Linked DNA regions of Homo sapiens. The protein of the gene in region 5 interacts with the protein of the main gene of each other region in a biochemical or structural test. Each region holds a gene or a part of one and is shown on either strand. Other genes may lie near its edges.

Evidence for each region.
Region 1: of the proteins of ABL1 (region 5) and RIN1, one has a biochemical effect on the other in vitro, tested with the Homo sapiens proteins (2 studies listed by BioGRID and IntAct, with this or other methods).
Region 2: the proteins of ABL1 (region 5) and ERBB3 form a complex in vitro, tested with the Homo sapiens proteins (2 studies listed by BioGRID and IntAct, with this or other methods).
Region 3: the proteins of ABL1 (region 5) and TOPBP1 form a complex in vitro, tested with the Homo sapiens proteins (one study listed by BioGRID).
Region 4: the proteins of ABL1 (region 5) and XPO1 interact in a test that uses a peptide from one of them, tested with the Homo sapiens proteins (2 studies listed by BioGRID).
Region 6: of the proteins of ABL1 (region 5) and ATR, one has a biochemical effect on the other in vitro, tested with the Homo sapiens proteins (2 studies listed by BioGRID, with this or other methods).
Region 7: of the proteins of ABL1 (region 5) and ATM, one has a biochemical effect on the other in vitro, tested with the Homo sapiens proteins (3 studies listed by BioGRID and IntAct, with this or other methods).

The regions. Positions count from the first base shown.
Region 1 is NC_000011.10:66,329,154-66,333,434, reverse strand, and holds the end of RIN1 (ras and Rab interactor 1), read left to right. Parts: intron 1-25; coding exon 26-177; intron 178-682; coding exon 683-1,159; 3' UTR 1,160-3,194; downstream 3,195-4,281. UniProt on the Homo sapiens protein: Ras effector protein, which may serve as an inhibitory modulator of neuronal plasticity in aversive memory formation. Can affect Ras signaling at different levels. First, by competing with RAF1 protein for binding to activated Ras.
Region 2 is NC_000012.12:56,082,578-56,086,664, reverse strand, and holds part of ERBB3 (receptor tyrosine-protein kinase erbB-3 isoform 1 precursor), read right to left. Parts: intron 3,352-4,087; exon of another isoform or gene 3,117-3,351; intron 2,915-3,116; coding exon 2,763-2,914; intron 1,671-2,762; coding exon 1,484-1,670; coding exon of another isoform or gene 1,353-1,483; exon of another isoform or gene 1,048-1,352; intron 135-1,047; coding exon 9-134; intron 1-8. UniProt on the Homo sapiens protein: Tyrosine-protein kinase that plays an essential role as cell surface receptor for neuregulins.
Region 3 is NC_000003.12:133,655,284-133,659,370, forward strand, and holds part of TOPBP1 (DNA topoisomerase 2-binding protein 1), read right to left. Parts: intron 3,868-4,087; coding exon 3,733-3,867; intron 2,659-3,732; coding exon 2,515-2,658; intron 1,575-2,514; coding exon 1,393-1,574; intron 204-1,392; coding exon 7-203; intron 1-6. UniProt on the Homo sapiens protein: Scaffold protein that acts as a key protein-protein adapter in DNA replication and DNA repair. Composed of multiple BRCT domains, which specifically recognize and bind phosphorylated proteins, bringing proteins together into functional combinations.
Region 4 is NC_000002.12:61,489,323-61,493,409, forward strand, and holds part of XPO1 (exportin-1), read right to left. Parts: intron 3,732-4,087; coding exon 3,593-3,731; intron 3,427-3,592; coding exon 3,245-3,426; intron 3,160-3,244; coding exon 3,003-3,159; intron 2,877-3,002; coding exon 2,713-2,876; intron 1,455-2,712; coding exon 1,320-1,454; intron 1-1,319. UniProt on the Homo sapiens protein: Mediates the nuclear export of cellular proteins (cargos) bearing a leucine-rich nuclear export signal (NES) and of RNAs.
Region 5 is NC_000009.12:130,841,633-130,845,719, forward strand, and holds part of ABL1 (tyrosine-protein kinase ABL1), read left to right. Parts: intron 1-4,087. UniProt on the Homo sapiens protein: Non-receptor tyrosine-protein kinase that plays a role in many key processes linked to cell growth and survival such as cytoskeleton remodeling in response to extracellular stimuli, cell motility and adhesion, receptor endocytosis, autophagy, DNA damage response and apoptosis.
Region 6 is NC_000003.12:142,554,397-142,558,483, reverse strand, and holds part of ATR (serine/threonine-protein kinase ATR), read left to right. Parts: intron 1-1,908; coding exon 1,909-2,101; intron 2,102-2,344; coding exon 2,345-2,607; intron 2,608-4,087. UniProt on the Homo sapiens protein: Serine/threonine protein kinase which activates checkpoint signaling upon genotoxic stresses such as ionizing radiation (IR), ultraviolet light (UV), or DNA replication stalling, thereby acting as a DNA damage sensor.
Region 7 is NC_000011.10:108,323,480-108,327,566, forward strand, and holds part of ATM (serine-protein kinase ATM), read left to right. Parts: intron 1-1,830; coding exon 1,831-2,065; intron 2,066-2,578; coding exon 2,579-2,746; intron 2,747-4,087.

The DNA.
Region 1 (4,281 bases), on a different chromosome or scaffold from region 5:
CGTGTTCTTCCACCCTGTGTCCCAGGTGGCTACTACCTGACCAGCCTCTCTGCCAGCCTGGCCCTGCTGAGTGGCCTGGGTCAGGCCCACACCCTCCCACTGAGCCCCGTGCAGGAGCTACGGCGCTCCCTCAGCCTCTGGGAGCAGCGCCGCCTGCCTGCCACCCACTGCTTCCAGGTAACAGGCCCTCCACCGTGTCCTCAGAGCCAGACGCCATCCCCGCCTTTCACCTTCCTGTCCTTGGTGAAGAGTCCAGACTCTGTAGACAGATCCTGGGTTCTAATCCTGGCTCTGCCACTGGGTTGTGGGGACTTGGGCGAGTTACTTAACTACTTCGTGCCTCAGTTTTCTCATCAGTAAAATGGGGTAATAGGACCTACCTCCTGGGGTTGAGGTGAAGATTAAATGAGTTAATGCAGGAGAGTGCTTGGGGCACAAATTACTCACTATCAAATCTTCATCTCAGGCTTGTGAGCGCCCCACTGGGCTGTCCTTGCACCTGCGGCTGTGGCCCACAAGCCGACCCCTGGAGCACATAGAGCTTTTGCCGCTTGGTTCTCCCACTGGATCTCCACCTACCCACCCTGTCCCTGCACAGCCCAGAAAGCTGATGTCTCAGCTTTGGAGCCAGATGCATGCCAGCCGGGGCTGAGTACTTGTTTTTGCTTCTCCTCCTGCATAGCACCTCCTCCGAGTAGCCTATCAGGATCCCAGCAGTGGCTGCACCTCCAAGACCCTGGCCGTGCCCCCAGAAGCCTCGATTGCCACCCTGAACCAGCTCTGTGCCACCAAGTTCCGAGTGACCCAGCCCAACACTTTTGGCCTCTTCCTGTACAAGGAGCAGGGCTACCACCGCCTGCCCCCTGGGGCCCTGGCCCACAGGCTGCCCACCACTGGCTACCTCGTCTACCGCCGGGCGGAGTGGCCTGAGACCCAGGGGGCTGTGACAGAGGAGGAGGGCAGTGGGCAGTCAGAGGCAAGAAGCAGAGGGGAGGAGCAAGGGTGCCAGGGAGATGGGGATGCTGGGGTCAAAGCCAGCCCCAGGGACATTCGGGAACAGTCTGAGACAACTGCTGAAGGGGGCCAGGGTCAAGCCCAGGAAGGCCCTGCTCAGCCAGGGGAACCAGAGGCAGAGGGAAGCCGGGCAGCAGAGGAGTAGCTTGAAGTGGCCAGAAGGGTCATTCGGGGCGGGAGACCCTGAGCCTGCTGAGAAATCCTTTTAGCGCCAGCAAGCCCCACCCAGGGCCCTGTCCTGTGTCTGCCACCACCTTTGTCTGATACTTGTTTCCAGGGAAGCTGGGGGAACTGCCACATCTGAGGAACTGGAATAAAGATGAGGGGGCTTCGGGGGCCCCCAGACTGTGTGCCCAAGGCCCCTTGCCTCTTGTTCTTCTCCCCCAGCTGAGGGTGAGCCAGCCTGCAATGAGGGTGTGCCAAGTGGGGGCGAATCCGACAGATGCCCAACCTCTGACGTGGGGAGGGTGACGGTCTCAGCTCCTTTTACCCTTCCCCTCATGGGCATGGCTGAGGCAGGGCTCCACCCAAGTATCTCCCACCAGGCTGGGACTTCCAGACCCTAAAAGGTTCCAATGGCTCTTAGGTGTCAGGAGGATTTAGAGAGGCCACAGAACAGCAGCAAAGGCTTGGGGCCCACCCCTGTCCTGGACACCAGAAGGACCTGCACCTGCAAGCCTCAGTACTCTCATCTGTAAAGTGGGGACACTATTGCTGCCCTGCTCGGCTCCCAGAAGTGTCCCAGTGATCAAAATGGGTGATTTTGCTACAAGCAGAGCTCATGGCAGAAAGGGAGGGAGAGAGCTGGGCTGCTAACTCTCTCCCGGAGTCCGCTCTCTGCCAGACAGGGCTCCCACCTGCTGATGCCCAGTTCAGGGAGGTTATTCCCCTGGAAATCAGGCCCTGGGGAGAAAGTACCCAAGTTACAGTCTCTCCCCAAGATTTGGAGTCCTCCCAGGCCCTCCAGCATCTCTGGGGAGATCCACCAGCTGGCAGATAAGCTTCCAGAATGGAGAGGGGGCTCAGAAACCATGCTCTCTGCACTAAACTCTTGGCCCTCACAAAAGCTTTACTTGGCCATGACTTGTTGGGCCCACTGAGGGTCAGGAAAGTGACTCCCAGGATGTCATATAGCAAGTCCTTAAGGGTTCCCCCGCCCAAACCAGGGCATCAGGTTCCAACTCCACCCTCCATTCTAAGCCACCCACAAAGGCCGGGGCAGCCCCCAAGGAAGCCCAGAGCAGGCAGCAAATCCAAACAAGGAAAAGTGCCGACCACCAACCACGAGGGGGTGTGCACGGCCCGGGAATCTGCCGAGAGGGTGACCACCCAGGGGTGAGGGCGCCTCCAAGGCTGCAGCAGCAGAGGGGGTCCCGGGCCTTGCAGTCCAGCAGCATCAGGCAACCTGGGGACAGCGCAGGGGCCAAGGCCACTGGCCCCCAGGTCCCTTAGATTCTGGGGTCTGGGTAAGGCCAGCCTCTTGGGGGCCATCCCCAGGAAGGAAGGAATTGTCCCCTTATGGAGGATGACCCCAGAGGCTCTCTCCTCGGGCACTGAGCACAGAGGGGACGTCAGCCCAAATGTCAGACATGACAACTGGGAGGTAGAAATCGTGGACATTGGCTTTTTGGGTTTTTTTGTTTGTTTGTTTGTTTGAGATGGAGTTTTGCTCTGTCGCTCTGGCTAAAGTGCAGTGGTGCCATCTCGGCTCACAGCAACCTTCGCCTCCCAGTTCAAGTGATTCTCCTGCCTCAGCCTCCCGAGTAGCTGGGACTACAGGTGTGCACCACCACACCTGGCTAATTTTTGTGTTACTAGTAGAGACGGGGTTTCCCCATGTTGGCCAGGCTGGTCTCAAACTCCCGACCTCAGGTGATCCGCCCGCCTTGGCCTCCCAAAGTACTGGGATTACAGGCGTGAGCTACCACACCCAGCCAGACATTGACTTTCAGATGAGCAGTCCAGATACAGCCCAGTTGCACGGCTCCCATTTTTTTTGTCACTAGGCCACCAGCAGCTCTTCCCTCCCCACTTCCACGCCCTCCCAAGGTTCTCGCTGATAGGAAGTGTCCCGTTGGCTCTTCTATTCCCCTCCCTGTTTCACCACTCACCCCTAGTGCCTCACACAGTCCAATGCTGAGCACAAATGCCATAGGTGTTCAATAAATGTTGTTCACTGATTGGAGTTTGATAACCAGGAGTGAGGGACAGTGAGGCAGAAACCTGGGGAGTATAAGGGAGGACTCGGTTCTGGGAATCAAACACGGGATGTGTCAAGCTCAGTCCCAGAGGAAGGACCTGGAATGTTTGTAGAGGGTGCTCGGAGGATCCCAGGGGCCGGATGTACAACTGGCCTCATGGGAATGAGGCTCTGGGGCCTCTACAAGCCCTTCCCACCCTTGCCAGGCTCAGCATGACCTGACCCCCTCCCTGCCCTCCCCAGTGATGGGGCACCACAGGGAGCTGCTGCCTGGGTCTTGTGGTTTTTCTTCTCAAGAAACTCTGGGCTGGGCCTGGTGGCTCACGCCTGTAATCCCAACACTTTGGGAGGCCGAGGCCGGTGGATCACCTGAGGTCAGGAGTTCAAGACCAGCCTGGCCAGCATGGTGAAACCCCGTCTCTACTAAAAATACAAAAATTAGCCAGGCGTCGTGGCACACACCTGTAGTCCCAGCTACTGGGGAGGCTGAGGCAAGAGAATCACTTGAACCCGGGAGGCAGAGGTTGCAGTGACCCGAGATCACACCACTGCACTCCACCCTGGGCAACAGAGCAAGACTCCATCTCAAAAAAAAAAAAGAAATGAAAAGAAAACAAAAAAGAAACTGATTGGTCAGGGGTCCAGGCCAAATCAGCATCAACAAGATTATGATCCTGGGGCAGAGCCTCCAGGCAAGGCAGACAATGATAGGCCAGTGTAAGACCAGTCTCACTAGCCCCATTTTACAGATGAGAAAACTCAGACTTGCTCAGGGAAAGTGCCTTGTTACAGGACAAAGGGCTCAGACACCAGGTTCTGTAGTCCTTCAAAGCAGAGGGGCTGATTTATATGTCCACTCAGCACATCTATCAAACATCTGTTATAGGCCGGGCAAGGTGGCTCAGGCCTGTAATCCTAGCACTCTGGGAGGCCGAGGTAGGCAGATCACCTGAGGTCAGGAGTTCAAGACCAGCCTAGCCAACATGGTGAAACCCCATCTCTACTAAAAATATAGAAGTTAGCTGGGCAAGGTGGCTCACGCCTGTAGTTCCAGCTACTTGGGAGGC
Region 2 (4,087 bases), on a different chromosome or scaffold from region 5:
CCACTTACAGCTTCTGCCATTGTCCTTCACCACTATCTCAGCATCTCGGTCCCTCACGATGTCCCTCCAGTCAATTGTGTCCATGTGACAAAGCTTATCGTTCTTCTCAATATAAACACCCCCTGACAGAATCTCTGAGGTAGGGAAAGAAGTGACAGGGTTAAGGGCCGCAGCGGAACGCCTCTTCCTTACCTCTCCACCCATCCAAAAGGACACCTGAGACTCAGGAGTGGGAGAATGAGGCAGACAGATAGGTCCAATTAAATCTAAGCTGCAGAGAAGACTCCCTTTATAAGATGAGGAGTCAGGCCAAAAGAAACTCCTGCCTCCTCAGTCACCTGTCCAGATCCGGTTTAGCTAGTGGGGGAGGGGAAGGGAGAGAGGGAGAGATTTCTGACTCAACATTCCCTCCCCCAAGCCCTGCCCATATGTTTTCCAACTGACTGGGACATGGAGAAGCAGAAGATGGACAGGTGGTTTTTAACCCCTATATTCCTCCAGCTCATAGGGGTTTGGTTTAGGAGAGTAAAGGTAGAATTCCTAGGGAAGGAGGGACATCCAGGTATACTGTACTTTGGTTTTTTTTTTTTTTTTTTTTTTTGGAGTCTCGCTCTGTCGCCCAGGCTGGAGTGCAGTGGTGCAATCTTGGCTCACTGCAAGCTCCGCCTCCCGGGTTCACGCCATTCTCCTGCCTCAGCCTCCCGAGTAGCTCGGACTACAGGCGCCCGCCACCACACCTGGCTAATTTTTTGTATTTTTAGTAGAGACGGGGTTTCACCGTGTTAGCCAGGATGGTCTCGATCTCCTGACCTTGTGATCCACCTGCCTTGGCCTCCCAAAGTGCTGGGATTACAGGCGTGAGCCACCGCGCCCAGGCTTTTTTTTTTTTTTTTTTTTTTTTTTGAGACGGAGTCTCACTGTCACTTACGCTAGAGTGCAGTGGTGCAATCTCAGCTCACTGCAACCTCCACCTCCCAGGTTCAAGCGAGTCTCCTGCCTCAGCCTCATGAACAGCTGGGATTACAGGTGCGCACCACTATAGCCAGCTAATTTTTTATTTTATTTTATTTTTTTGTATTTTTAGTAGAGACAGGGTTTCGCCATGTTGGCCAGGCTGGTCTCAAACTCCTGATCTCAAGTGATCTGCCCTCCTTGGCCTCCCAAAATGCTGGGATTACAGGTGTAAGCCATCAGGCCTGGCCTCCGGTACACTGTACTTTGAAATTAGAAAAACGGTTAACAGATCCAGCTCTGACTCCAGCCCCACAAGGACACAGGGTTCCTTTCCCTGGAGCAGATGCCCCTAGCTCCCCCTACTGGGGGCCCTCTATTGCTTAGGGAGCAATGGACCTTTAGACAGCGGCCAAGGTGACAGGCACCTTGGAAGAGGCACTTAGAGTGAGCAGTCTTGGGTCATCATCAAGGAGGTACCAGTCTTGGGCTGGCTGAGGGGTGAGGCCAGAAGGAACCATCGGGAACTGACCGGTGAGCTGAGTCAAGCGGAGCTGGCGCAGAGCGTGGCTGGAGTTGGTGTTATAGTTCAACATGACGAAGATGGCAAACTTCCCATCGTAGACCTGGGTCCCTCGCACCACGCGGAGGTTGGGCAATGGTAGAGTAGAGAATTCATTCATGGCCACGAGGACATAGCCTGTCACTTCTCGAATCCACTGTGACAGAGCAGATTATGTAAATGAGAGAGACAACAGGGCAAAATAATCTCAATCTCCTCTCCTCCTTCAGGCATTAAAGACTCTTTAACTGTTTTAATTCTTCCTTCTTTCTTTCCTTTCTTTTTTTCTTTTTTTTAAAATTTGAGACGGAGTTACGCTCTTGTTGCCCAGGCTGGAGTACAATAGTGCGATCTTGGCTCACCACAACCTCCACCTCCCGGGTTCAAGCAATTCTCCTGCCGCAGCCTCCCAAGTAGCTGGGATTACAGGCATGTGCCACTACACCTGGCTAATTTTGTATTTTTAGTAGAGATGTGGTTTTTCCATGTTGGTCAGGCTGGTCTCGAACTCCTGACCTCAGGTGATCCGAGCTTGGCCTTTTTTTTTTTTTTTGGTGAGACAGGGTCTCGCTCTGTTACGAGTGGCACAATCTCGCTCACTGCAGCGTCAAACTCCTGGGCTCAAGCAATCCTCCCACCTCAGCCCTCCAAGTAGCTGGGACTACAGGTGCATGCCACCATACCCAGCTAATTTTTGTATTTTTGTAGAGACAGCGTTTCACCACATTGCCCAGGCTGGTCTTGAACTCCTGACCTCAAGTGATCTGCCTTCCTTGGCCTCCCAAAGTGCTGGGATTACAGGCATGAGCCACTGCACCTGGCCTTAACTCTTGCTAATTCCTATTTGGGAGTAGGGAGTAGACTGTGTCACACTGCTGTGTCACTTCTGGGAGTGAAGACAGGCAGCTTTCTCCTCAAAGTGCCTCATACCAGTAGGGCCCCTTCCTCATCTCCCCAGGTAACCTCTTGGTCCTCAGGTTTCTCTCTGCACTAGTCCCTGCTGACCTTGCACTATCCACAGAACACCACCTGCCCCTGACCCTGCCCCCTATATATCCCTGGCTACAACAGTGAGACCATAGGTCCCAGATGACAGCCACTGTCCCCATAAATACACGGTTTTGAATCTTAGGAACTCCTGAGTCTTAGGAAGGGTGAACTCCAGCAGAAGGTAGCCCTGAAGAAGGAAGGAGGGTTCTAGGGGAGAATAAAGAGGAGCAGGTTGAGGAAGGAGGGTGGGCTCACTAACCTGCAGGAAGGAGAGGTCGGCATTGTGTCCCGTGAGCACAATCTCAAGGTTCCCCATCACCACCTCACACCTCTCGTAGAGCTTGTACAGTGTCTGGTATTGGTTCTCAGCATCGCCGGTCACACTCAGGCCATTCAGAGTCCCAGGACACACTGTTCAAAGCAGAGGGAAGAGTGGCTGAGGGCTGGACACAAATTCTCAGCCCATCTGCCATCCCCAAAGATCACCCCCTTGGTTGCCCTCTTCCAGTTACATTAGACAGGATCAGATGGCATTTGCCTCCAACCCTCCCACAAGCGATAGGCAGAAGCTGTAGTGGCCTGAGAGCTTTCTCTCTTCTCAGAATCCCCTTACCATTCCATGAATGGGAAGGTGAAAAGATTTCCTTTTTCAACCTGGGACCCCTCTGTGCTTCTTTTGGGTACTAAGGGGTTAACTGAGAAGGAAGACAGGGAATTTGTTTCTCTCCCTAGAAAAGAGAAGTTAGGAAAAGGCCGCAACTTTGATTACCCTCCTCTCCCCCTCCAACTAGGGCACTCACTTCTCTACCCTCATCCTGCCTCTCTCTAGGTCCTGGAATAAATATCTCTTTGGGACTAGTACACAGCCCCTATTGTGTCTACTGAGGGTGGGATGGGGGCAGAGGGTGGGGGCAGTGCCTGGGGCCACAGTCCAGCCCACAATGAGGCGATTCTATCCAGGAGGGGGGCTGCCCCACCCTGTCCCTAGACACCCCGTCCTCAGCAGCACTCCCCTCCACCCTCAAGCCTTGGGCTCAGACAAGTGACCTCAGTAGAGGGGGGAGCTCTGGCAGTGCTGGGGTGAGGGGGGGTCAATGGGAGCTTTGTCTTTAAAGCTGAAAGATAAGGAGCTAGTTGCCTCCCCGCCTTCCTAAACTCAGGGTTTCCTTCTCACTCTCTCCCCCATCCCAACACACTCTAGCAACCTCAGCATCACTTTCCAGCCCTAGAGTATTTTTCAGCAAATACAGAGGAACCTGGAGAGAGATAGTAGCAGATGCCCCATATTGAGCCTCCACACAATTTCATTGTTAGAAGAGGTTCATGAAAAAGCCTTTCACCATGGCAATCCTCACCCACACTAGGGGAGAGCCTAGACTAGAGGTACATGGCATGTCAGCCTTGGGAGTTCACTCTTCTTTGCAAATGTGGTGGACAACGGGCTATGGGAAGTCCTGGACTCTGAAGCCCTACCCCAGTCTCTTTCCTCTGGTTCAGGGAAAGACCATGTGTGGGGTGGGGAGTAGGGGGTAGATACCACCTGTTCCAGCCACCCTTCCCTGAGGCGGTGGTAGCTCAGTGGGA
Region 3 (4,087 bases), on a different chromosome or scaffold from region 5:
TTTTACCTTTTGGTTCTTGCACAATGAGGTGTGTACATTCATTCATTTTCAATTGTCCCATGTATTGACCTCCATGCTTAACTGTGAGTTGCTGAACTTCTTTCCTGTCTAAGCCACATAAGCCAGTCACACAGATTATGCAACCAAGAAAAATAGGACACTTGAAATCTTCCATGTTTATATCAGTATATCTAGTTATTTTTCTGTGGGAATCAAATGGTTAAAAAAGAACATATTAAATTTACCAGAAGAATAATGAAAAACAACACAAATATCACTATTGCTTCCCTCATTTTTTAGGATTTATAATCTTTTTTTTACAAAGGAGAACCACCAAAACAGAATTACACTAATTGTTCACCTAGTTCAATAACATGTCTCTAAAACAAAGTAATTGTTTCAGATACAGTCTCTCAAAACCATTTTAAGGGAAAAATATATATTTCCTTAACTCTAGCCCTTGCTGGTCATAGTATATTTTCCAAAATGATAAGTCTGAATCTCTACTTAAAAACCCAAAGGTAATTTGGTTGCCTATTAGATAAATGAACTTTTTAATCTTTCCATTATTCTATACAAGTAAAAGCAATGATTTTTGGCAAAATACCAACAAAAATATCATTATTCTGTTGCCATGCTAGGGAGGTGTGCTGATGAAGTAATCACATTGGGAATGAGAGTTGCTGACATGGAGACATATTTGGGATATGCTGGATGGTGTTGAAAACAAGCCCAGAAAAGTGCCGATATAATTCGTATGCCAATACAATTCTGTGGTGTTTGGTCTTGTGGTTGTTTATCTAGTTGCAGGGGAAACTGAAGTGTGCCCCTTGAAATAGGCTCTAAGCTCCATGAGGGAAGTGACTATCTTGTTTTGCTTACTACATATACCTAATGCCTACCTCAAGTCAGATACGTAAAATGGGCTCAATTAGCATTTATTAAATGATCACATCTCAGCTGATGACTTGCATATGTTTATATTCAACCTTACATATGCCATCTTTTGGAAGGAATGCAACTGCCAAAATGACTAATTTATTATCTATCTTAACATATGGGAATGGTGTTGAAGGATAATGCAACATAAAAGCTACAGAATTGCCAAACTCGTTTTCTCAATTATTTCAGAAATATTTACAGCTGAGAACTTTATCACCAAAGCATTTCCTACTCTGTAGCTAATGCTAAACCCTTGGCCCATTCTATGCCTGTCAACTTATATCTTGGTAATAAGAGCTTGTAGATTCTGCTCTTCCGTTTTCGCTGGAGAAAAGAGTAATGACACTATTTTTTTCCCTGAATAGTAAGTCCAAAGAGTATATCACATGCCAAAAATGATTGAATGCATCATTTTTTCAAATCTAGAAAATATAAAAATGTCTTTCTTACTTCTCTTGTGACTTCTCCCAAAGTGTTTTTATCCAAGAGGGAAGCAAAATAGGTTTCTTCAGGTTTGCAGCAACTAAATATTTTTTGCTACCAACTTCTCCTGCAATAAGGTGAGTTACTGATACATTAAGGTCTCTGTATACTCGTCCGCCCATCATTTGTACATATTTATGAACTTCTTCCTGCAGCCCCAAAAGAGAACACATTAATGCTGAAGCAAACAATATTGCTTCCACTTTTATACACTATCTCATAAATACATTTTGCTGTTGACAGTTTGAATACATAAGTGTTACATAACATTATAAAGTTAAATAATTAACCAAATTATTTTTTGGGAGATAAGTATGAATTATATTTTTAAAATATTATTTTCCTATATTTATCCCTTTCAACTCCATGAATGTATTAAACTATTATACAAAGGATGTATAAATCTTAATCTTTGCTTCTATATAAATATACATGTGTATTTTTAACAACATAAATTATATCTATATAATATATAAATATTTATTTTTAGCCAGGCTTGGTGGTGCATGCCTGTAATTCCAGCTACTCGGGAGGCTGAGGCATGAAGATTACTTGAGCCCAGGAAATCAAGGTTGCAGTGAGTTGTGATTGTGCCACTGCACTCCAGCGTGGGTGACAGTAAGACCCTGTCCCAAATATATATATGTATTTCTATAGCTCTCTCTTAGAATGCTTTTTTTTTTTTTTTTCCAAAACGAAATCTTGCTCTGTCACCCAGGCTGCAGTGCAGTGGCGTGATGTTGGCTCACTGCAACCTCCACCTCCCTGATTCAAACGATTTAGAATCCTTTTTTTTAAAGACTGTCCACCTATAGTGGAAAAATGTAAGTGATTAAAAAATGAGTGTCCTTTTAAATTAAAACAAAAAATTTCAATTAGCCAGTTTTCAACAAAACAAATTCTACTATATTCAATTTACTTAAAAAATGTACATGTATACATATATACACACTGTGGTTGTATACTGAACTTTGTTAAAAGTCACGAACAATAAGCGGAAAGTCTTTTAAGCTATCTTCTATGCAGTGAAAAATTAAGAATAAGAGATAGATATATAAATTGATCAATCATCATGAGATCAATATCTACCCTTTTTTCTTTTTCCAGACTTGTACAAGATATGGTTACATCAGACATAACCATATTATAAACTGGATGTTCGGCTCTTGGGACACATCGCTGGTGGTGCATACAAAATATGACTACTTGAGGACCAACAATTCTGCAGCCAAGCTACAAAAAAGAGAAAAGTTTAAATGAGTTAAGAAGGAAAAGACCACCAGTCTTACAAAATTACATTTTGTAACATTCACCAATTCTTTACCAAAGTTGATGACCACTGTAGAGAAATCAGCAAATCATTACAAGAAAAAAATAAAGATGACTATATAATTTCTCAGAGATACTATACATTAAACACTCACACACAAAAGCAAATCAAACAATGCAAGCTATCAAAAGAAATAAACTTCAGGCCAGGCACAGTGGCTCACGCCTGTAATGCCAGCACTTCAGAGGAGGCCGAGCGGGGGTGGATCACCTGAGGTCAGGAGTTCGAGACCAGCCTGGCCAACATGGTGAAACCCCGTCTCTACTAAAAATACAAAAATTAGTCGGGTGCAGTGGCGGGCACCTGCAGTCCCAGTCTCTAGGGAGGCTGAGGCAAGAGAATTGCTTGAACCCAGGAGGCGGAGGTTGCAGTGAGCTGAGATCACGTCACTGCACTCCAGCCTGGGCGACAGAGTGAGACCCTATAACAAAAGAAAAAAAAAAAGAAAAGAAAAGAAATAAACTTCAAAAGCCCCTTTCACTGAAAACTGCCTTACTGCTTACATCTATAAGCCCAATATTTTGGGAGGCTGAGGTGGGAGGATCACTTGAGTGCAGGAGTTCAAGACCAGCCCAGCCTGGCCAACATCGAGAAACCCTTTCTCTACTAAAAATAAAAAAATCAGCCGGGTGTGTATATACATCTGTAATCCCAGCTACTCAGGAGGCTAAGGCACAAGAATCACTTGAACCAAGGAAGCAGAAGTTGCAGTGGGCTGAGCTTGTGCCACTGCACTAAAGCCTGGGCAACAGAACAAGACTCTGTCTCCAAAAAACAAAAACAAAAACAAACAAACAAACAAAAAAAGCCTACTGTAACATAATTAGCCTTTCAATCCTGGTCTTGCCAAACCAAAAGAATTCCAATGTACTCATAAGTTGCATAGTACTTTATAATCCGCAAAGAATGTATGTCCATTAAAGCAAAGATAAACCAAAAAATAGACTACCAAAGGTACACACTAGAAGTCAGCAAACCTTTTTGAGGTGATCAAAGACAACGCCACTAAAAGGGTCACAGATATAAAGTGATCTATCATTCTCCTTTATCTTCAATGCCTCTTCTTCTGTAATAATCTGAAGATATTCTTCTGATTGGAATTCTTTTATGGACTGAAAGAAAAAATAAAATAAGAATGTACCTGAAATTACTCTCCTGTATTTAGGTCCTATTCAAATTCCATCTCAAATCCAGCCTTTTCCCTATTGAAAGCCACCATCACATCTCACTTAGACCTCTGCAGAAGGCTCCCAAGTGGTCTCTTTTTCCCTTCCTTGCCCTAAATCTGTTCTCTACACAGCAGCTAATAATCTTTTCAAAAACACAAGTCAG
Region 4 (4,087 bases), on a different chromosome or scaffold from region 5:
GAACTGCTTGAGCTCGGGAGGCAGAGGTTGCAGTGAGCCGAGATCACGCCATTGCACTCCAGCCCGGGCACCAAGAGTGAAACTCCATCTCAAAAAAAAAAAAAATCCACATAATTACCAAAGCAAAAGCCATTACGCTTCCCTTACCCTAAACCATATTTATAATCCCAAATGGTAAAAACGAACACAAACGCCTTTTTGTCTACATCTACTTAAGAATGAAGTAATATAGTTCTATTTTTTTTTTTTTGGGACGGAGTCTCGTTCTGTTGCCCAGGCTAGAGTGCAGCGGCGTGATCTCGGCTCACTGCAAGCTCTGCCTCCCAGGTTCACGCCATTCTCCTGCCTCAGCCTCCTGAGTAGCTGGGACTTACAGGCGCCCGCCGCCACACTCAGCTAATTTTTGTATTTTTAGTAGAGACAGGGTTTCACTGCGTTAGCCATGATGGTCTCGATCCCCTGACCTGGTGATCCGCCTGCCTCGGCCTCCCAAAGTGCTGGGATTACAGGCATGAGCCACCACACCCAGCCTATTCCTATTTTAATATCAAATGAGAATGGAAATTACAGTATTTTTTTTTTTTTTTGAGACAGAGTCTTCCTCTGTCACCAGGCTGGAGTGCAGTGGCATGCTCTTGACTCACTGCAAGCTCCGCCTCCTGGGTTCAAGCCATTCTCCTGGCTCAGCCTCCCGAGTAGCTGGGATTACAGGCGCCCACCACCATGCCTGGCTAATTTTTGTATTTTTAGTAGAGACGGGGTTTCACCACGTTGGCCAGGATGGTCTCAATCTCCTGACCTAGTGATCCACCCGTCTCGGTCTCCCAAAGTGCTGGGATTACAGGCGTGAGCCACCGAGCCCGGCCCAGATTTTTCATTTATTTTTTTTTTTTTGAGACAGAGTCTTGCTCTGTCGTCTCGGCTAGAGAACAGTAGCTCAATCTCGGCTCACTGCAACCTCTGCCTCTTGGGTTCAAGTGATTCTCCTGCCTAAGCCTCCTCAGTAGCTGGGATTACAGGCATGTGCAACCACGCCCAGCTAATTTTTGTATTTTTAGTAGAGACGGGGTTTTGCCATGTTGGCCAGGCTGATCTCGAACTTCTGGCCTCAGGTGATCCGCCCGCCTCGGCCTTCCAATGTGCCAGGATTACAGGCGTGAGCCACCACACCTCGCCCAGATAATAAATTATAGAAAGACACACATAAAAGCACTTATGGATCACACATACATGTTAAAAGGCTTGAATTCAATACATTTGTAAAGAACACGTCTTGTTAAATCCCATGAAAACTTTTAAGAAAAGGTAGAAATACTTACTTTGGTTGCCTGCTGGATTATACTATCCCACACTTGATTAGGGAGTAACATGTACTTTTCTATCAAGTGTTCTTGTACTGTTTGATCTGTTTGTGCACCAATCATGTACCCCACAGCTTCATAAAACGTATGAACCTATTTTAAAAAGCAGACATTTTAACGTTTATGTTATACACCCTAATAAGGAAAACCACACACAAGCAATTCACAAACGTCTTGAAACTGATTTTGGCCCAGGTGCAGTGGATCACTCCTGTAATCCCAATACTTTGAGAAGCCAAGGCAGGCCAATCACTTGTGGTCAGGAGTTGCAGACCAGCCTGACCAACGTGGTGAAACCCCATCTCTTCTACAAATACAAAGAAATTAGCCAAGCGTGGTGGCAGGTGCCTATAATTCCAGTTACTTGGGAGGTTTGAATTGCTTGAACCTGGGAGGCAGAGGTTGCAGTGAGCCGAGATTGCAATACTGCACTCGAGCCTGGGTGACAGAGGAAGACTCCACCTCAAAAAACAAACAAACAAACAACCCAAACTGGCCAGGCATGGTGGTGGCTCACGCCTGTAATCCCAGCACTTTGGGAGGCCGAGGCGGGCGGATCATGAGGTCAGGAGTTGGAGATGAGCCTGACCAACATGGAGAAACCCCGTCTCTACTAAAAATAAAAAAATTAGCTGGGCGTGGTGGCAAGCACCTGTTAATCATAGCCACTGAGGAAGAGAATCGTTTGACCCCAGGAGGCAAGGCTGCAGTGAGCCGAGATTGCGCCACTGCACTCCAGCATGGACGACAGAGTGAAACTCCATCTCAAAAAACAAACACACACACACACACACACACACACACACACACACACCCCAAAACAAAACAAAACAAAAAACACCTGATTTTGTTTGTTCGGAATAATTTTACATAGGACAACAGCCTAACAATCTTCTGGTCAAGAATCTGTCTCACTATGAAAATTTAACCAGGCTGGGCGTGGTGGCTCACACATATAAAATCATTTTGGGAGGCTGAGGCAAGCGTATCGCTTGAAGCTAGGAGTTCAAGACCAGCCTGGGCCACTTGGCAAAACCCCATCTCTACCAAGGGGGGGAAAAAGGTTAGCTGAGTGTGATGGCAGTGCATGCCTGTAGTCCCAGCTACCCACGAGGCCAAGGTGGGAGGATCACCTGAGCCTGGGAGTTCAAGGCTGCAGTGAGCCGTAATTGTGCCACTGCACTCAAGCCTGGGCAACAGAGTAAGACCCTGTCTCAAGGAAAAAAGAAAGAAAATTTAATCAGAAACACTTCTATTGGATCCAATAGTTGCCCTCCTATTTCCATTGATACATACAGATTGATACAAGTGTTACTTTCTAAAAATAACATATGCTCAGTGCTTAACATACCTGTTGAGGCTGAAGATCACAAATAATAGTGTTAATGTTGTTCAAAATTTCATCAATAAATGGCATCACTTCTCCAACCTGAACCTGAACGAAATGCCTGCGGCATTTTTGGGCTATTTTAATGAAAGTATCACAAGCCATATCCTGGACTCCATCATGGGTCTCTAACAAGACAAAAATATTCATTTATTTTGTCCTGGACTCCATCATGGGTCTCTAACAAGACAAAAACATTCATTTATTTTCTTCAATAAAAATAAAAGCAAAATATAGTAAAGAAAGAGATTTACCATGCATGAATTCGAACAGCTTGTTAACTACAGTCTTCAGAAATTTCCAGTGAGCTCTCAAAAAACGTGGGTATTGACCTACTATGTACATGATATTTGATGCAATAATAGCTTTATTATCTTTGCCTCTTTTCTGTTCACATAATCCTAATAGATCCTGTAAATAAGACAAATTTGTATTATTTATTGTAACAACATAATACTTATTTAGCAATTCTAATTCATACCTATCCCTTGCATACCTTTATAACAGTAACAAGAAATCGTTTTTCGTCCTCTTCATGCATTGCTCCACTAATGGAGCCTATTGCCCAACACAATGTATTCAAATTTTTCCATGACCACTCTGTACCATTCACTTGATTGTGAAGCTTCTCTGTCATTATTCTTTCTGTATCTACATAATCCAGATGAGTAAGATAAACTACAAAGAAAAACATGGTTTCAAATGCAAATAATGAGCAGAATTTTATTGATGAGTAACAATACATTTAGAAAATATTTAGAAACTACAAGTACATTTCCTAAAATGTATTTCCACCCCAGAATAGATTTATAAAGGTAAAGATTAACAGTATTTATTAACTTACCCAATGTTTCCCTCATATTCTTATACAAATTTATGGAATCTGTATCCTTCATGAATTCTCTCACAACTTCTCCTTGATCATTCTCTACAACCAATACTTCCTCTGGTTTAGCCATTCGACTAACCATTAATAAACGGACCTATACTCAACAATATATCAATCAAGAAAAAAATCGTTAGATCACTGAAATCATTAGTGTAGAAGCTTAGTTAAAAACAAACAAAACCAAAAAAACCACAAGCCAGCCATGTGTAGGGATTCATGCCTATAATTCCAACTATTCCGGAGGGCCGAGGCAAAAAGAACTGTTGTGGCCAGGAATTTGAGAGCAGCTTGAGCAACACAAAATGACACCCAATCTCTAAAACAATAAAAATACTGGGGCTTAAAGCACAACAGAAAAAACTATGTAAATATAAATGAAGTAAAACTAAAAAATTTAAAATTTGCTAGGCATGGTGGTGTGTGCCTGCAACCAATTACTTGGGAGGCTGA
Region 5 (4,087 bases):
AAACCCTGTCTCTACTAAAAATATAAAAAATTAGCCAGGCGTAGTGGGGAGTGCCTGTAATCCCAGCTACTCAGGAGGCTAAGGCAGGAGAATTACTTGAACCTGGGAGGCAGAGGTTGCAGTGAGCCGCGATCTCACCATTGTACTCCAGCCTGGGCAACGAGCAAAAACTCCAGCTCAAAAAAAAAAGTTGGTTTTCAAATCCTTCTTTCTTTACCATGTTACACCATAAATATTTTTGTTATATTGCGTGTGTTGAGTACTGGTGATAGGGAAGACAGAGAGAAATAGGTGGGAAGGAGATAGAGAGAGAGAGAGGGAGGGAGGAAGGGGAGACATAAGGGGGAAATCTATAGAGACAGAGACTGAGAGACAAATACAAAAAGGTTGAGACAGGAAAGGGAAAAAAAAACAAGCTGGGAGGGAAGGAAGACTGAGAGAAGGGAGACAAAGAGGAATAGGATGGCCAGTGGGGCTGGGGTGGGTGGGTACAGAGAGAGAATGAGTGAGAGCAAGAGAAGCGCAGGAGACAGATGATGGACAGGCAGCTGATGTATGGATGGGTAGCTGGAGAGAGAGGCCATCAGTAACTTCACATCTCTCTGTTTCCATTTCCTGCCCTCAAATGCCTTCATAATAGAGTCTACGTAATAAGGTTATAGGGATTCAGTGCAGATGAAGTGCTGGCACTTGATACGGGATCAGTAAGTATTAGCTATTATTCTATCACATTAAGTTGCATAAACTTTAACCTCATTACTCTTAAATTCTCTATAGAAACCTAGTCTTTATCTGTCTTACAAGCCCTCAAATTTAGCTAATAGCGTTGTTCATTGAATACCTTAAAATTGTATTTAAAGACAGGCCGTGAATACAATTAGGCATTGCTTTTTGAAGCCAAAATACCATGAGGGTGGGGAGGGTCATGTTCATTTACCCAGATCAGCAATAAAAATACTAATGGCTAACAAGGCTTTCTGGGGAAATTGCCTGTCATTGGGTAGCCCAGTGCCTCTGGTGTCAGCTGACCCCGGAGTCCATGAAGACATGTTAAAAGAAGAGGAAATGTGAATGCTTTCAAACCAGCCATGGCTGGCAGCAGAAGGGGAGGCCTTTCAGTCTGTTGCAAATGGCCTGTGACAATAAAAATGCCTTTGTGGGTATTAGCAGGCTGACTGTGGACAGTCTGGATCTGCGGCCACTGCAGGGATTCCTGGAACCTGTTGGGAAGGTGTCCGGCGAGCTCACTGTGGTGTCTGTTAGGAATCTGGAGCAAATCCTATTTCTTTTGAAAGCACAGAGAACTGTGTTTTTACATTATACCTTTAGGATTTTGGCCATGGTTTATATTTCAGTCAAAACAAATCATTATGTTCCCTAGGCTTTTATATAGGTTTTCCTGGTCAGGTTGCATTTGTTTTTCAACTTTACTATCTGTCATTATTGCTGCTCTTATTACAGGTTAACAGATTATTAAACTGCACTTTTCAGTACCTTGTAGCTAAAGACAGACAAGTGCAGGGTGTTCCACATCTGAGTTCACCCAGCAGTGCTGTGTTGTTGCGTTGCACTGAGCAGGCACAGAAGGCTCTGAGATATGAGAGACTTGGTCTCTACCCCAGAGGAGTTTACATTGTTGTGGTGGCAGAAGAGAAGGCGTGGCATAAGAGAAGACGCGGTTGTTCTGTAGTGAGCATCCCAGTGTCAGGTGCCACAGTTGGCATCCATGCAGAAATTCTCTGCATGCAGGATTCATTGAGCCCTCCCGACAGCCCAACTAGGTTGATGCCATGCCGTTGTTGCCCTGTTGTGCAGTTGAGAAACTGAGGCTCAGAAACAAATGTCTTCAAGACATGCTGGTGCTGAGGTTTGAACAAGGCCTGTCCACCCAGAGCCCATGCTTTTTGTACTGCTGGGGACATGTGAACAGATTGCTTACTGGGTGATAGATGCAGGGTGGTGATAGAGACAGACACCAGGTACCCAAATGGGTTAAAGGAGAAGCATCCTGTTGTGGGCGAGGTGATGGGGAGGAGGAAGGACCGGTTAGAGAAGGTTTATGGGAGATGGGGAGGCCAGGAAGAGCAGAAGAGGCTGGGGAACGAACTCTAGGGAGAGTAAATGGCACTTGTCACAGTGCAGTCAGGAGAGGCAAGCAACAGGAGGCCTGGGGGATCTGAAAGGAGTTTGGAGAGGCTGGAATGGAAAGCAGGAGTAGAGGGCCAGATGCTCCCAGTCTCAACCCTGAAGAGCCTGGCATGCCTGCTTCAGGAGCTCAGACTTTTACTATAGTGGTGGAAGGAATAACAACCCCAGCCATTTTTTGAGGGCCTGTGCATGCCTAGGCCCTCAAAAACATGTCCCATGTTAGCTGCAAACTGCCAGCTACCCTGCAAAGCACATCATGATCCCAGCATTGCCCCCGATGACACTGCCAGTAAGTGGTAGCTGACCATTGGGAGACAGGGCCACCTCCCAAGCCCATGCTCTCTTCTGCCTCTCGGCTGGCAGCCATCTCTAAGGGATTTGAAGCAAGAGAGTGACCTGGTCAGGTCTGCATTTGAGAAAGATGGCCCTGATAGTAGGGAGTGGAGGTGGAATGGCCAAAGGGGGACCCAGCCAAGGGCGTGGTAGAGCATGGAAAGGACAGAAGTGATGAGAGATTGAGGAGGAAAAGTGCCAAGATGCAGGGTGGGAACTGACAGAGGATGACTTCCAGCCTCAGTCCTGATATGGGCGTCAATGGCAGGTGTTCAGAATGGCCTTGAAGATAGTGGCATCTCTATTTATGAGTGTCTTTGTACTCCATTTCCAGTAATTGGAGACTTTTTCACCGTAGATTCTTGGAAGGTGACACAATTTTTTTTTTTTCCTTTTTGGTTGAGGGAGGGGGACAGGGACTGTGTATCTTCAGAAAGGTTAATATTTGAGGCCAAGGCAGGCAGATCACTTGAGGTCAGGAGTTCAAGACCAGCCTGGCCAACATGGTGAAACCCCGTCTTTACTAAAGATATAAAAATTAGCTGGGCATGGTGGTAGGCGCCTGTAATCCTAGCTACTCAGGAGGTTGAGGCAGGAGACTCACTTGAACCCGGGAGGCGGAGGTTGAAGTGAGCCAAGATCGCGCCACCGCACTCCAGCCTGAATGACAAGAGTGAAACTCGGTTTCCCCACCAAACAAAAAAAGAAATACCTAGTTTCTACCAGAGACAGTCACAGGCACTGTACTTCTACTCTGGTTTGTTACCTGTGTTCTTAAAAAAATTAAATGCTACATTTTAGTAAGAGGTTAGTGAAATAAAATTTTAATTTTTCCCATCAGAGGACATGGAGCCCTTGAATTCTATCCCAGACTCCCAGGGTCTTCCAGGTTAACAAGTCCTGCACTAAGGAATTGGCTCAGTAAAACCTCAGCATTCTCACAGGAAGAGCCTAAAAAGGAGACTGGGATAAATTAGTGAGAGGTCCAAATTATGCAATTTTCTTTTAAAATAAATGCAGTTTTATTACTTTCCACTTGTAGCCATTATAGGCAGTAGATTAAATGAGTTTCTAGAGAAACCTCCTTTAAAAATAAAGTTATTTAATTAGTCCAAGGTTTAAATATTTCCCCTGGAATCTTTTACATGACAATGTCTTAGCCAGACAATTTTTAAGAAACAAAATTCTCCATCCTAACTCCTATCCCCATCAACAGTCCAAATCTTAACCTTTCTTTTTTTTTTTTTAGACAGAGTCGAGCTCTGTTGCCCAGGCTGGAGCGTGGTGATGCAATCTTGGCTCACTGCAACCTCCACCTTCCGGGTTCAAGCGAAACCCCTGCCTCAGCCTCCCGAGTAGCTGGGACTGCAGATGTGCACCACCACGCCCAGCTAATTGTTGTATTTTTAGTAGAGACGTGGTTTAGTAGAGACGACCTCCCAAAGTGCTGGGATTACAGGAGTGAGCCACCACACCTGGCCAGAAACCAGGTGTTTGATATCAGGTGACGGTTGTGATCATTGTTCGCACCACTACTTTGAAATGACATAGTTGCCACTGGACCTTGTTATTTAATGTGCGAATAAAGAGACAGTTATTTAAGGCA
Region 6 (4,087 bases), on a different chromosome or scaffold from region 5:
GTGGCGCAATCTCGGCTTGCTGCAACCTCCGTCTTCAGGTTCAAGCAATTTTCCTGCCTCAGCCTCCTGAGTAGCTAGGATTACAGGTGCGCACCACCATACCCAGCTAATTCTTATATTTTTAGTAGAGGCGGGGTTTCACCATGTTAGCCAGGCTGGTCTCGAACTCCTGACCTCAAGTGATCCACCTGCCCCAGCCTTCTAAAGTGCTAGGATTACAGGCGTGAGCCACCATGCCTGGCCTTGTGTGGTTTGTTTTAACTCATCTCTATATAGGACTTCTAAGACTTATTTATATTTTTTTCAATAATTAAAAGAGCAGGTACATTTTTAATAGTTCAGAAGGGGGTTAGATACATAAAAAGTAACACATAAAAGCCTGCCCCACATATCCCATTTCCTTTCTTTTTGTAAAACATTTGCAATGTGTCCTTACATATCATTATCTTCATTTAATAAAATTAGGAAGTATTTGAGAAATATTTTAAAAAGAAGAACAATATACCAAAAATTCTTATACCAACTTCTCAGTTTAAGAAATAGAAACATTAGGCCAGGCACGGTGGCTCACGCCTGTAATCCCAGCACTTTGGGAGGCCAAGGCATGCGGATCTCTTGAGGTCAGGAGCTTGAGACCAGCCTGGCCAACATGGCAAAACCTCATCTCTTCTAAAAATACAAAAATTAGCCAGGCATGGTGGCTCACGCCTGTAGTCCCAGCTACTAGGGAGGCTGAGATACAAGAATCTCTTGAACCCAGGAGGCAGAGGTTTCAGTGAGCCAAGATTGCACCCCTGCACTCCAGCCTGGGCTATTAGAGATATGATGGAAGCCTTTGTCCCTCTATGATTTCATTCCCCTCATTTTTTTCCCCAGAGATTACTACTGTTCTGAATTTGGTGTTGATTGTTCTGTTGAATGTTCTATTACTTTTACTATATATGTATTTATTTATAAATAATATAAGAAATTGTTTTGCTTCTTACAGCTTACATTTTGTTGATCAACACTATCTTTATGAGACTTATCCATGGTGATATGGGTAACTCTAGTTTTTATTTAAACTTCCAAATAGTAGCCAAATTTGGATGGACACTATCAGACCTCCTATTGGTGGACAATCAAGTTGTTTCCAACTTTTCACAATTACAAGCAACATTTAAATGAATATTTTTATAAATGATTCTTTAGTCATTCTAAGTCCTTGCTGTTTGAAAAGTATGCTCCACAGACCAGTAGCATCGCCACCATTTAGGGACTTGTTAGAAATGGAGCGTCTTTGATTCTGCTGAAAGAGCACATTAAAAAAAAAGAGAGAGAAAGAAAGAAATGGGGAATCTTATGCTCCACCCAGACCTACTGATCAGAATCTGCATTTTAACAAGATAGGTGATTCATATCCATATTAAAGTTTGAGAAGCATTATTTTAACGTTTTTACCTACCTAGGAGTAGTATTGTTGGGTTATAGAGTTTGCACATCTTCACCTCTATTCTGCTGTATTGTTCTCCAAAGATACACCAGTTTACACTCCTGTTAGCAGAGTATGAGTTCCACATCCTCACTGACACTTAGCTGACTTTAAAATTTTTGCTATCTAGAAAATAAAAAATGTCATGGAGTTAAGTATCTTAAATTTTTTCTTTTTCCTATCTGGTAGGTATGATTTTCAATTTGCATTTCCTTGATTATTTAGTAAGGTTGTGTATAGACCTTTTTCAGTGCACTTGCTTTATTTTCTGAAAAGGAGCTTTTAATTAAATTAGGTATTAAATGTATTTTAAGTGTTACTTGACTTTTATTTATATATATGTATACACAAATGTTACTTTACTTATATATATGTATATGTGTATACATAAAATTAACATTAGTAGAAATCTTGTTTAATAGACTTAATTTTTTCAGCACCACAGGCACAATCACGATGTGTGTTTCTTCTGACTCTGTTTCCAAGAAGAATATTCCTTGAGTGGAGAACAGCAGTTTACAACTGGGCCCTGCAGAGCTCCCATGAAGTAATCCGGGCTAGTTGTGTTAGTGGATTTTTTATCTTATTGCAGCAGCAGAATTCTTGTAACAGAGTTCCCAAGATTCTTATGTATGTACTAAGATTTTAATTTGAATATATCACTCTATTGGAAAGATCATAATTGTCTGGCTATGTATGCAGGGTTGTGTTTATTGTTGAATATGTAAAGCAAATGTTGCTTTTAGTTTTAGAATTTAACATTTTTTCCTTCTAGGCTTTGTTTTACCAGTACTTTTGTCCCAAATTAAGCAAGACTATTTAGACCACAAAATTAGGCAAGAAAGTTTAGTACTTTTTCTTTTTTTTCCCCAGAGATAAAGTCAAAGATGATTCTGACATTGTCAAGAAAGAATTTGCTTCTATACTTGGTCAACTTGTCTGTACTCTTCACGGCATGTTTTATCTGACAAGTTCTTTAACAGAACCTTTCTCTGAACACGGACATGTGGACCTCTTCTGTAGGAACTTGAAAGCCACTTCTCAACATGAATGTTCATCTTCTCAACTAAAAGCTTCTGTCTGCAAGCCATTCCTTTTCCTACTGAAAAAAAAAATACCTAGTCCAGTAAAACTTGGTGAGTGATTATGACTTATTTAATACTTTAAAACCTATTTAAGCTCTGCTTTTCAAATCAGTAAAAGAATTAGACTGAAGCCTTGAAAAATTACAGGAAGTTACATGCTTTATAGATTCAGTGCTCAGTATTGATTAGTTATAAATGGGATAACTGGTATTAGATCGCATCACAAAACTGGTAGGAGAGGTGATTTTGGGATTTTTCGAATACTCTTGTGATTTGACAGCCTAAATGGGGCATACCTGATGGTTGTTTCAATATTGTAAGATTCAATATTAGATTATCTTCTTTAGTGATACCAGAGATCGTCTTAATGTGCCCCCTGTTACAACCTTGGACCTTGAGAACTTCAAATAGTTAAATTACTTTGCCCAACTGAGGACTATAGAGTGTATCTTCTTGGCCACTTTCCAGTGGTAATGGAGTATAAATTTTTATGAAGTATGAGATTTATACAAATACTTAGAAGATCCATTTGTTTAGGTAGTAAGTTGAAACTTGTTCTGAAGTTTCAATAGAAACTTTCTATTGAAAGCAATAGAAAGTACTCCCTAAATCTTGTAATGTAAGGTTAACAATAAAGCTAAGATCCCCTTGAGAAATGTGCTTTTCTTTTTTTCTTTTTTTTTTTTTCCCCGAGACGGAGTTTTGCTCTTGTTGCCCAGGCTGAAGTACAATGGCGCCATCTTGGCTCACTGCAACCTCTGCCTCCTGGGTTCAGACGATTCTCCTGCCCCAGCCTCCGGAGTAGCTGGGATTACAGGCGTGTGCCACCAGGCCTGGCAAATTTTTGCATTTTTAGTAGAGACAGGGTTTCACCATGTTGGTCAGGCTAGTCTCCAACTCCTGACCTCAGGTAATCTACCCACTCTGTCCCCCCAAAGTGCTGGGGTTACAGGCATGAGCCACCATGCCCGGCCTTTCTTCTTTCTTTTTTTTTTTTTAAGAGACAGGGTCTTGCTCTGTCACCCAGGCTAGAGTGCAGTGGCGCAATCATGGCTCACTGCAGTCTGCATCCTTGATCTCCCAGGCTCAAGTGATCCTCCCACCTCAGCCTCTTGAGTAGCTGGAACCATAGTATGTGCCACTACACCCAGCTAATTTTTAAATTTTTTGTAGAGAGGGATCTCACTTTGTTGCCCAGGCTGGTCTTTGAACTCCTAGCTTCAAGTGATCCTCCCACCTTGGCCTCCCAGAGTGTTGGGATTACAGGTATGAGTCACCACTCCTGGCCTGCAATGTGTTTTTAAGTTTATCTTGGTAACATATAATGGTCTACAAAATCTGAAAGAGACTTGTTATTTTATAACAATTCTGGAAATTATTTTAGATTTAAATTATTTATAGGCTGAGTGCAGTGGTTCGCTCCTTTAACACCAGCACTTCGGGAGGCCGAGACAGGCGGATTGCCTGAGCTCAGGTGTTCGAGACCAGTCTGGGCAACATGGTGAAGCCCCATCTCTACAAAAAATACAAA
Region 7 (4,087 bases), on a different chromosome or scaffold from region 5:
TTTGATAGCACAATAGGGCAACTGTAGTTAACAGTAATTTACTGTATATTTTTAAATAGCTACAAAAGAAGATTTGGAATGTTTCCAACACAAATGATAAATGTTTGAGATCATGGATATCTCAATTACCCAAATTTGATCATTACACATTGTATGCTTGTATCAAAATATCACACGTACCTCATAAATATGTACAACTATTATGTATCCATAAAAATTAAAAATAAATTTTAAAAAGAAACACCTAAAGAATAATCTGGCTGTTTCTTTGGTAGAGAAATAGGAAGAAGAGAAGCAGAGGGAAGGTTGGATGAACTGGTGCACAAATGCTTATGCTCTCAGATTACATTCCATTCATATACATCAACCAAAACATTAAATAATAACAAACTAAATGCAGAAGCAGAGATAAGAATTCATCTCGTTCTGTTAATCCAGACATTAAAGAGATTTGCAAAAATGCAAAACAGTGCCATGCTCACTAAGTTTTGTTTTGTTTTGGGAAGTATACAGTTGAAATTCTTTATCTACAGGTTTCCATCTATGGATTCAACCAACCGCAGATCAAAAATATTTGAAAAAAAAATTTTAAAGAATAGGGTATAACACTTATTTACATAGCATTTACATTATAGTAGGTATAATATGTAATTAGAGATTTATGTATAACCTGTGCACATTCTCCTATTACACGTAATCTAGAGGTTATGTGTAATACTTTTTGGAAATGTTTAATAAAAGCACAATCTAGAGGTTACGTGTAATAGGAAAATGCCCTGCCATTTTAAATAAGGGACTTTGAACATCAGCATTATCAAGGTGTCTTGGAACCAATTTTCTGCAGATACAGAGAAACTACTGTAGTTATTTTTCCTAAAAATTGTTATTTATGATATATAGTAGATTTATTATTTTTGAATAAATTAATACATTTTAGATTTTTCTCAGTCTTTCTAATATGATATCATATCTAATATCAGTAGATATGGTCCAACGATCGAAAGTTCTTTGGGGTCTTCAATAATTTGTTTGATTGTAAAGGAGTTCCGCAAAAAGTTTGAGACCTGCTGTGGTAGGGTCATTTAGAGAGGAATTGAAGTTTTGGTTCCTAGCATTTTTGTTACTGTTCCTTCCCTATCAAGCAACTAAAAGAGCTTTCATTTCTTAGTCATCACTTTGTCATCTTACTCTCCCTGCTTCCTCTTTCTTATTTCTTTCAATAAATGTCCCTGAAGGATTGGGTAGTATTTCATAGTTCAGTTATTTGGGAAGGATACTATTCATATAAACTAATTGTGCAATATGCCTTTTCTGTTCCTTTAATAATGTTGGTAAATGAAACCTTTGCCAGATGCCAGCTTTTCCTTCACTGGATTGTGATTTTTTTGACAGCTATAATTATGCATCAAGTCATCCCCAGTAGGGGGTCCCTCATTTCCTTGCTGACATGTCCTCATTACTACAGGCAGTATTGAAGCAGGACTAAAGATGGAGGCATTCTTTATGATAGGTCTGATGAATATGTTCTTGTTTCAGAAGAGTATTTAGAAGGGCTGCTTTTTGTAATGTCAGAGTATTAAAAATTTTTTTTGATGTTTGTCATCTGTGACCTCTCTGCTAATAACTCTTAAGAGCTCTGACCGCATAGCATTTTGTAGTTTTCTAAATTTTGATCCATATGTAGGATTATTTACAAGTTCTAGTCTTGTCACTACAAAAGTTCCTTTGTATTATTATAATATTATATCGTAAGTTCCAGAACTTACATAGTTTTTTTTTTTTTTTTTTTCATTTCTCTTGCTTACATGAACTCTATGTCGTGGCATTCAGATCAGTCACACATAGACAACTCTCTGAAGTATATATTAAGTGGCAGAAACACTCCCAGCTTCTCAAGGACAGTGATTTTAGTTTTCAGGAGCCTATCATGGCTCTACGCACAGTCATTTTGGAGATCCTGATGGAAAAGGAAATGGACAACTCACAAAGAGAATGTATTAAGGACATTCTCACCAAACACCTTGTAGAACTCTCTATACTGGCCAGAACTTTCAAGAACACTCAGGTAAATACAATTTAAAACTATGTCATCTTACCTCTTGACTTTCCTTTTATTATTTAAAAAACAGAAAGCCTGAGGGAAAAAGAAATGTCATTAAGAGATAGAGATCTCTATTAATATATAGTAAAAATAATTGTTTAAGAGTTCCCATTTTGGAATTAGATCTGACTTTTAAGCCTTGGGCAAGGGTACTTAATCTTTTCTCAACCTCAATTTCCTGGTTATAAAATGAGAAGATACGTAACTTACTATATTGATAACAATTCAGTGATTTTATATACTGTGTGTATGTACACACAGATACACATACATACATATAGAGAGAGACAGACAGACAGACAGATAGGCAGACGTGGGGTGGGGAGATGTCATGCAGACAGAGAGGTCCTTAAGATAGTCCCTGACAAGTAGTTAAGTCCTCAATGAATGGTAGTTGCTGCTTTCATTATTATTATTATTCATGGTAGTAGTATCAGTAGTAAAAGTATTTATTCCCATATGTCATTTTCATTTCAGCTCCCTGAAAGGGCAATATTTCAAATTAAACAGTACAATTCAGTTAGCTGTGGAGTCTCTGAGTGGCAGCTGGAAGAAGCACAAGTATTCTGGGCAAAAAAGGAGCAGAGTCTTGCCCTGAGTATTCTCAAGCAAATGATCAAGAAGTTGGATGCCAGCTGTGCAGCGGTTTGTTTTTTTTATTGGCTGGATTAGTGTTTTACTGTTATTTAAAAAAACACAAATGTACTTTAAAATATTTTTAATAACAATTTTATTAGAGCCTTGAAATTAGTAATTTATTAACAAGATATTGTAAAACTAGTCTTGAAAATTAATTTGTAAATGAAGTTTAGAAACTTTTTCCTATATATCACAATTCTATCAGTCCATCATGTGGTCGATTCATTTAATATATCCCAGTATTAAGCCTTTAACTTCCTATAGAATTCAAGAAAGGTATGTGGGAAATGAATGAAATAGCTACTCTAAATTTGAAATGACAAGTGAAAAAAGGGAAGAGGAAATGAATGAGAGAACTAAATTAGAAAATAAAAGCAAGTTGGGACAATTAGGTTGTCAATCCAAATGCTTTGAAAATATCACATCTAATATTTTATCTAACATTACCTGTTGGTTTTTGCAAACTTATGTTGCTACTTCAGCTGTAAACCCAGCATACACACTGGATAAAGTAGAGGCATTGGTGTCCCCAAGGTTTGTCTACAGTGGTGTCCCACAGACATGTACCTGCTTAGTGAATATCAGCTCACTGTGCTTTATTATTTATTTATTTATTTATTTTTTGAGACGGAGTCTTGCTCTGTCACCCAGGCTGGAGTGCAGTGGTACGACATCGGCTCACCGCAACCTCCACCTCCCTGGTTCAAGCAATTCCCCTGCCTCAGCCTCCCTTGTAGCTGGGATTACAGGCACATGCCACCATGCCCAGCTAATTTTTTTGTATTTTTAGTAGAGATGGGGTTTCACCATGTTGGCAAGACTGGTCTCGAACTCCTGAGCTCAGGCAATCTACCCGCCTTGTCCTCTGAAAGTGCTGGGATTACAGGCGTGAGCCACCACGCCCGGCCTTTACTGTACTTTTTGATGTTGGGCACTCATTGTATAGCATCTTCTGTTATTAGAGAAATCATTATACCAAAGCACTGAGTGCCAATATGATATGTGTAAATATTGCTTAATAGTATTGGCCCTGAAGTATGTGCTGTCTGGAGTTACCCAACTTCCTTGTACCTCAGTTTTCTAATCTGCAAATTGGGGTAATAATAGTACTTATTTAATAGGATTCTTGTGAGAATTAAATGAGTTAATATATATAAAGCCTTTACAAAGTGTCTGACATATATAAGTACTCAATAAATGTGACTTGCTCCAATAATGGCAATAATAATAATAAACAGAGGATGATCATTTCCTACATGGGATTATTAAAATAGTTGTATGGCAAAAGCAGATGAGGAAAAACTTTTTTTTTCCCACCCACCAAGGAAAAACATTTTTAACCTGCTT